Linked DNA regions of Homo sapiens: region 2 is linked to region 1. The links come from fine-mapping of genetic effects on gene expression. A gene starts in region 1. The other region holds a variant in brackets. All regions are shown on one strand. Distances are between the middles of the regions.

The links. PIP is the estimated chance that this variant, and not a neighbour inherited with it, causes the effect.
Region 2: its variant is the best candidate, but not a certain one, in a credible set for the expression of KLK4 in adrenal gland (GTEx, PIP 0.54).

Annotation. Positions count from the first base shown.
Region 1 is chr19:50,909,043-50,913,431 of GRCh38, forward strand. KLK4 (kallikrein related peptidase 4) reads right to left here and starts at 2,353. Exons shown (of 6, transcript NM_004917.5): 1 at 2,297-2,353; 2 at 1,636-1,707; 3 at 210-372. The coding sequence starts at 1,696.
Region 2 is chr19:50,888,483-50,892,871 of GRCh38, forward strand. It overlaps the pseudogene KLKP1. Among named protein-coding and RNA genes, the nearest start is that of KLK2, 17 kb to the left of the region's middle. RefSeq lists enhancers at 2,589-2,638, 2,709-2,818. The variant C/T (reference allele first, on the strand shown) is at 2,548.

The DNA.
Region 1 (4,389 bases):
GAGATTTCAAGTCAGGACTCTCTGAGTCCTTCCGAAGCAAGATTCCCGCCTCCCAGCCCTTCCCTCTGGGGCTCCCCGGATCCAGGCTCATTCCGTCCTCCTCCCAGAGCCTTCACCGCTGTTTCCCCCTGAGCACCCCAAGATGAGCCTGATATTAGGCCCCGCCCCCGGACCCAGGCCCTGCCCACTCCCCCTACCTCTGCACTCACTTCTGGAAACAGTGTGCGGCTGACAGCACCCACTGCGGATGCACCAGGACGCCCGAGCAGAACAATTCGTTTTCCATGACCAGTGCCGCCTGCCAGGGCTGCGAGTGCGGGCTGCAGTCCTCGCCGTTTATGATTTGGCTGCAGCTACCAGAGACGAGCGATCCTGAGGGCGGAGTCAGGGATGGGATCGGGACCAGGAGGCGGGCCCAGGGTTCCTGGGGGTGGGCTTACCGAGCAGGGGCGTGGTCAGAGGTTCAGGAGCAGTCAGGGCTCCTCGGGGCGGAGTCAGGGCTGGGAACGGGCTCAGGAGGCGGGCCCAGGGCTCTTGGGGGAGGGGTTACCGAGCAGGGGCGTGGTCAGGGCTTCAGGAGCAGTCAGGACTCTTGGGGGGCCGAGTCAGGGCTGGGGGCGGGCCCAGGGGGCGGACCCAGGGCTCCTGGGGGTGGGGTTATGGTGCAGGGGTCATGATCGGAGCTTCAGGGGCTGGTCCAGGATATAGGCCTAGGGCTCCCAGGGGCGGTGATCACGGTGCAGGAGCCTGGTCAGGGATTCAGGGTAGTCAGGGCTCCTGGGAGGAGAGTCAGGGCATGGGGGTGGGCTGAGAAGGCGGGATCAGTGCTCCTAGGGTTGGGGTTACAGCGCAGGGGCGCCATCAAGGCTTCAAGAGCTGGGTTATGGCTAGAGGCAGTCTCAGAAGGTGGGACCAGGGCTTCTGGGGCGGAGTCAGGGCTCTGGGGTGAGCTCTGGAGGTGAGACTGGTGCCATCGCGGTGCAAAGCCACGGTCAGGAGGGGTTCAACAGAGGAGTCTAGGCTCATAGCAGTAGGATCGGGTCCTTCGGGGTGAATTAAAGCTCAGGGGGTGGAGTTGTTGCTGGGAGCAAGGATCGGGTCACTTGTCTGCGCAGACTGATGCTCAAAGAGTCGGTCCTGCGCCGAGTCACTCCTATCCTCTCCCAGCCTTGCCCACAGTCACACCAAGCCACAAGCCCATGCACACCAAAACACCGTTTTATAGTCCTGTGAGGTGAGTTCCTTGGGGATGGGAGAGGGGGATCTCAGGACTGAAGACCCAGGAAGCAGGCACAGATTCCCAGCAATGGATCACGCCCCAGGAAGCACAATCTCCTGCACCCTCGGCTTCCCCTGTCCCCATATCATCATTACACTGTTGTCACTCCACCAGATATTCAGAGGCACAAACTGTCAGAGTCTCACAGGTACAACCACACACCCAGGCACACTGCCACACACAAATTTACCACGATACAAGGAGTTGCAGGGGCACAGCCATGGGGGACGGATAACACGGTACCGTCTCACAGGCAGCTTTGCAGTCACAAGCAAGAGGACACTGAGTCACACCTGAACATTAACAAACACTGTGCCCCCAAGCACGGACAGACACACACACGCATACTCAGATACCTGCGACACCAAGGATGAGGTACCCCAGGAACCAGCCCCAGGGATTTCCTGCTGTGGCCATCACGTCAGCACCTGGGGATGAGGACTGAGACTTAGCCGTGTCTGGGGATCTTCAGCCCAAGTCTCTCCATCCCTCTCTTTGTCCCTCCCTTTCTTCCCTCTGGGACGTTATTAGGTAGGCAAGAGCCTAGACCATCTACCCCCTCTCCCATCCATGGACCCAGAACCTAGAGAGACAGATTTAGAGACTGAGAGAGAAAAAGAGAGAGAGAGATGGGAAAAGAGAGAGAGAGAGAGAACTAGGTAGAAAGGAAAGTTTAGAGAAAGCATCTAGCCATCTGTGAATGGGGAGAGATGGTGTCTAGCCACCCACAAACAAGCATGGAGGGAAGACACACAGAGAATCAGAGCCGGAGAGACAGAGTGCTTGAGAGATATCCTCAGAGACAGTCTGAGAGTTAGACATGGAGATATAGATTCAGAGAGACAGAGAGACCCCTAACTAGAGACAGTGACTCCTAACTAGAGACAGTGAGAGATCTGTCTAGAGAGATGTGGAGACAGAAGGCACAGAGGCTGAGAATCCAGCGACATGGAGCTGTAGGGAGAGTTGGATCATGAACACTGCAGGCTTTTAGTGGGGGACCACCAGGCCTCTTACCCGGCCACCTCTGGGCTCCTGGATTCCACTGCTGGGCTGAGCTCCAGCCTGCTGCCTCCCGCAGGGGCCTCCTTGGGGCTTATAAGCATCCTCAGCCTGGGCTGGCCTGCCCCCAGGGGATGTGTTCCAGGGGTCAGGTGCTGCAAACTTCCAGCTCAACTCTCTCAGGCTGCCTCAACTCTGACCAGGCAGTGGTTGGGGGCCCAGAAGGGGCTGGCAGCAGGGTCTAGGGACCCAGGGAGGAGACCCCTGCCCAGATCCTAGACTCCACTCTCCTTTTTCTTTCTCTCTCTCTCTCTCATTCTTTCTCTTTTCATGTTCTTATTCTCTCTCATGAGATACCTCTCTCTTGCCTGTATCTCTCATTTTCTCTTTCTCTTCTTCTTTCTTTCTCTCATTCTCTCTCTCATTATTTTTCTCGTGTTTTCTTTCATTTCCTCTCATTCTCTCCTGTTCTCTCTCATGTTCTTTCTCTTTTTAAATTAAATCTCTCTCTCTCTCTCCCCTCCTCCTTCATCCCTCTCTTTCTGTGCTTCTCCAGCAAATTTCCCCAGGTTCGTATCCAGCCTACATCACGAACTATTTTTGGAACCTTGGGCAAGTGACTGCACCCCTGTGAGCCTGTTTTTCCAACTGTAAAACTGGAGTGACCATTATGCCCCATTTCCCAAGTGGATTCAAAGAGGTAATTCAGGGAAAGGCACACAGTGCCAGGCACATTGTAGGCTCTCGGTGAGCGGGAGAACTAAAAAGTCTTCGCTCAGTGAAAAGCAGCTGAGTGCCTACCACACTCCGAGCTCTGCGGCAGGTGCTGGGGCCACAGGAGGAACCAGCAAAGTCCTCGTCACTGGGGATCGCGTCCTACCCGGGGGCACAGACCATAAAGGAAAACTGCAGGGACCAGCATATAAGGTGGTGGTCGGGGAGACTCAGAGAAGGGGAACATTTAAGCTGAGATCCCAGGGAAGAGGAGGAGGAGGGTCGCCGCAGCAGGGGCGGTTGCGGGGTGCAGGGGAGAACTTGGCTCCAGCCAGAGGAGGGCAGGGCGGGTAGGAGGGCAGGGCGGGTAGGAGCGCAGACCGGGAACCGGGCGGGCCTGCAGGAGTTTACGTACCAGGATTAAGGAGCTTGGGTTTTACTTAAGTGCAATGGATTTTAAGCACGAGGATGGAGTGACATAATCTTATTTACTTTTTAAAAACTTCCAGCTTGGAGAGTGATGGTGGGGGCGGGGCGGGGGGCAGTGGCAACAGCCCAGGTGGGAGGTGACGGGGTCAAGGGAGAAGAGAGGTGAATGGACACGGGGTCCCCTCTGCATGTGGAGCCAAGTTACTGCCCGATGGATGGAAAGTGGGGGGCCAGGAGCAGAGGGGCCAAGGATGGCGTGGAGGCTTGGTCTGCTGGCTTGCGCTCTACGGATCTTGTGGAGACGCATAGGTGCGGGAAGGGGGGTGGGGGGTGAGAGGGTGCCGTAGACCGCGGAGGGTGCACGGAGGGGCAGGCCGAGGTCAGGACTGCCGAGAAACAGCGGGGACTCATCAGGGGAGAGGTGGTGTTTACAGCCACGAGGCCGGGTGAGATCATCCAAGGAGTGGGTGGGTGTAGACCGCGGAGCCGGCGCGGGTGAGGGATAGTGCCCGCAGGTGACCGCGACGAGGCAGGAATGTCTCTGTGTCTCTCTGTCTCTCCTGGGTCTCTAACACTCTTTCCTTCTCCTTCCTTACTTCTTTCCCCCACAGCCCACCCCGTGTGTCTGTCTCTCTTTCTCTCTGGCTCTCTTTTCCTCTGCCTCTCTGGTCCCATCTCTGTCTCTCTCCCCCTTGTCTCTGTTTCTCTCACCTGCCAGACTGGAAGCATCCCAAGTGAGACCCTCCCCCAACTCTGTCCTGGGCCCGTGCGCCCCCAGATAACTCTGGGCAGGACGGGACATAGGCTGGGACCACAGAACAGGAAGCCCTGGCAGGTTTCTGTCTCTGTCTCTCTTTTCCCTGTCCCTGTCCCTTTCTCTCTCTGATCCCTTCTCTCTCGCTCTCCCTCTGACCTCTGTCTGTGACCCTCTGATCTCTGTCTGTCTCTGTCTGCCCCTGTGTGTC
Region 2 (4,389 bases), 21 kb before region 1:
CTTGTCCTTGTCTTTCCGTCTCCATCTCTGTCTGTCTCTTTGCATGTGTATATTTGTGTGTGTGTATCTTATTTTTTTTCTGTTTCTCTAAAAATCCTGTCTGAGAGAAACTTTACTAGTTGTTCTAGAGGAAGGAAGTCTTAAGGATGAGCTTTCTGAATTAGTTCTGGCATTTCTAGTGTTTGGAATTGGTTCTGTAATGCGAATAAATTAAAGGCACCACAACTCTATTTTCAGTAATACAAACAGAAATAAAAGTCCGTGGTGTAATGTGGCAATAGAGATATGCAAAATAACACCACTGGATATTCCGAATCAAATAAAGGAGAAATGACCAGGGTGATCATGTATATGACACTTTAGAATATTTTTTAAAGTAACAAGCATAATGAAATTGGATGATTGCTTCTAGTTGTGTTGGCAAAAGTGGAAAAAGAAAAGAATGAGCACAGGACTTTAAATTTCCAGATCTCAGACTGAAGAAATAATCTAAAGTTGCTATGTCTATGATGTTGAAAGAAACCTTTATCTCCTGTAGCCACAGAGCTGAGATTTCTGAAAATCAAACCTAGAATCTTATTGTGTGAGTGGCTGAATTACAGTGCTAATTAAATCCTCAGCATGCATGCTGTCTGCCATTAAAGTGAAGGCATAATTGAAAGGGTAGGGATCCCAAAAGTTGGAATGAAGACATGTGGGAAGACTCTGATTATGGTCAGGAGACTGGGGAAAGGGTCTAGTTAGAGGATGTGGCCTGAGGCTTTAAAAATGAAGATCCAGGGGACAGATAGAATGTGGCCAGTGTCTGGCAGGATGTGGGGCACTTGGCATCTATCCTGGTGCCTGAGGAAGCAGTGAACTCTCCCAAGAGGGAGAACCCAAGAGGAAGAGCATGTTGGGGAGGAGGAGAGACAAATGGCGAAAGGAAATTTATTATGCCAAAGGTGGGATGAATTTGTATCTGGAAGGATCCAGCTAGAGCCAAGAAGGTTCAGCTTCAGCTTGGCTTACACTATCCCCAGAAAAGTTCAACTCAGCCTTGTTCCCTCTTCTGTTATTTTGCTGTGCCCAGCTGGGGCCCCTCCTAACTCCAAGGGCCAAGAAAGTTCAACTTCAGCTTGGCTTACACTGCCCTCAAAAAAGTTCAACCTAGCCTTGGTCCCTCTTCTGTCATGTGGCTGTGCCCAGCTGGGGCCCCTCCTACCTCCCACCCTTCCATCTCCAGCTGGACAGGTGCAGCCTTAGTGCCCAACTGTTTGTCAAAAACTCTGAAGGGGCTGATATTTTGCCAACTGGCAAACAAATAAGTTAGCCTGCCACAGTTTTATGGATACTGGCAGAACACACTGGATTCTGGATCAAAGGCAAAGGACTTTATTACTCACAGCACAGAAGACAGCATGAGCTTTGTGTTCACATCAGTTCGCCTTGACCCTAAGTCCCACAGGAATGATCAGAGAAGTTTAGGAGGATCCTGTGACACGATGCTTTGACCCACAGCTGAGAAACCTGAGCTTAGGAATCCTGAATCGTATGAAGGGACTATTAATATTTGTCCGAGAGGGAGACACATTCTTCGTTATCCCGACCACAAACAGACCTGCTCTGGAGGAACATACTATATTTATTGTACTGAACACTAAACAAATCTGCTTTAAGGGACACATTATTACACTGGTCGGTAAGCAAAGCTGTTTTGTTGAAAATACCATTTGCAAGATGGCTTGCTAGCCAAACATCCTTGATAGTCCAAAGCAATTTTTTTTTCACTTTGAAGCCATGTAGAAACATGAGAGGCCCATGGAGAATTTTCTCTCAGAATCATAATTTAAATTCTCTAACCTTCCCTGCAAAACAAACTTATACTTTCTTCCTTATACCCCTTGTCTGCCACATCTGTTACCCTAGCCTCACCAGTGTGCCAGGCCCAGTTCCCAAAGATGGCAGGAAAAATATGGGGATCTGATCTGGATGTGCCCTATTGTTGCTGTCTGTTTATGTGTGGATTTGACTTTGAGGGGACATATCCACGTTTCCCAGTGTAGAGGCTCAGGGTCTTCTGACTGTGAAAAGTCCTTGTTTGGTACTTGTGCGTAGTGCAGTTCTGTGTGCGTGTGTGTGTGTTGTGTGTGTGTGTATGTGCATGCACATGTGTATGTGGTGGGTGTGCAAGGCCCTGCTGTCCACTACCTGCCCACACATGTGAGCCATGTCCCCATATGGGAAAACTGATGAGTAACCTTCAACACCAAGTGTCTGACTTGGGGGGTGATCTAGAGACAGATAAATCTTTCCTGTCCCAGCTGCCTGTGTCTCCAGAATATGTCTTTCCCCATAAATGCCCAACTCTGTGTCTGGGAGTAGCCAGGAATCTAACCTATGAAGCTGTATTTGAATGTCTGGCCCTTGGGGTTGGTGTCTGCAACTCTGAATCACCACTAAGTGGTTTTATGGATGAATCACAGTATTAGCTTTGACTAACTTTATCTGGGTCTGCACATATGTCTGATTTTGGCTATATTTGTTTTCAAAATCTGAACGTGCACA[C/T]GTATGTACCATAACTAAGTCATGTGTCCTTGATTAAAATAACTGATATTTATTACTATGCATTACAGTTACTGTGTGCCAGGCATTATCATGCACACCCACACACAGGCATACACACAAAGACACATTTTTCTATTTAAGTCTTAAGGAAACCCCCATGAACAAATGAGGAAATGGAAAGACATTGAGGTCAAATAATTTTCTCAAAGATTCAGAAATAATATGTTTGATCCCAGGTGGTCATACTTTTGGATACAACCACCATACTATAGACCCATGTCTGTGAATTGCTTTTGGAGGGGCTACTCAGGATATGTCCCCTCAAAGTCAAACCCAACACTGCATATCAGTGTCTCTCTCCTGTGTACCTTTACTAAGGCCCCCACCTTGTACGTTCAGACCTTGTGTGCAAGTGTGTGCAACTGGAACACTGGGTATCCAGACCTACAGTGGAGTGTAGATTTTGGTCCAAGCTTCTATGTCCAAAGCTCTGTGTGTGTGTGTGTGTGCGCGTGTGTGCGCGTGTGTATGCACACATACACCTATGTCTTTTTTTTTTGAGACAGAGTTTTGCTCTTGTTGCCCAGGCTGAAGTGCAATGGCATGATCTTGGCTCAAGTCAACCTCTGCCTCCCTGGTTCAAGCTATTCTCCTGTGTCAGCCTCCCGAGTAGCTGGGATTACAGGCATGTGCCACCATGCCTGGCTAATTTTGTATTTTTAGTAGAGAAGGGGTTTCTCCATGTTGGTCAGGCTGGTCTTGAACTCCCAATCTGAGGTCATCCACCCACGTTGGCCTCCCAAAGTACTGGCATTACAGGCGTGAGCCACTGTGCCTAGCCACACCCATGTCTTAACTGTCCACACTTACATACAAATATCAATGTCCATATAGTGACCCTCGAAGCTGAGATCTATTTATATGTTACGTGAAGGTAAGCTGTAAATGCTGTACCTACCAATACCTAAGTTTGAAAGTCTGGTTGTGCATATATGTAGGTCCACAATCTAGTATGGCCACATCTGTGCCCTTGTATGACCCTGAGTTTGGCCGAGATACCCAAACTCTGGGACCAAATTTGTGTGTCATACATACTGAGTGTCACATCCATTTAATATCTGTGACAGATGAATGAGCCTGAATGACTGGCTCCAAGTGACCACTTGTCTGAACTCACTGTATCCAGTGACCTTATCTTCATCCCCAACCACAGAGAACTTCTTGCCCTCTGGTCTTTTCCCCTTTCTCTCTCTTTTGGGAACCTATAACACATGAGATGGGTGGTGGGAACAAAAAAGGATACAGTTCCAGGGAAAAGAGGCAAAAGTTTTTTAAAGCTAGAGAGAAAACAGTATTTTAAAAACATATCAGAGGCTCCTGGAGAAACTGAGGGGAAGGCATAAGTGAAGAATATGTAGGTAGATAAGGGCACAGTCAGGGAATAGGAGGTGAGAAGGACCCTGTCCTCATGGATCCTCTACTCCCATCCCAGAGGCCTAGGACGGTGACTAGGTCCTGGGAACTGAGGAGTGTATGCTCTGCTCCCAATCTTGGCAAGTGATTTTCTTTGAATGTGGACATTTTAACTGTGGTCCTTCATGCACTGTCCCCCGCTGTGAGCTCTCTGAGGCCCACTACCAAACCTGGTAAGAAGGCAGGGGTCAGGGTCCTGAAAAACGTGGCTGGGAGTAGGAACCCATGGGTTCTGTACCTGGAGTTGGAGAAGGCTGAAAGCCGGGAGTCCAAGGTCTTGGAGAAGGAAAATGTTGGGATTCTGGACTCCTGTATTTTAATGGGTTGGGGAGAGAGTCCTTGACTCCTCTGAGGACAAAAGTACTGGAG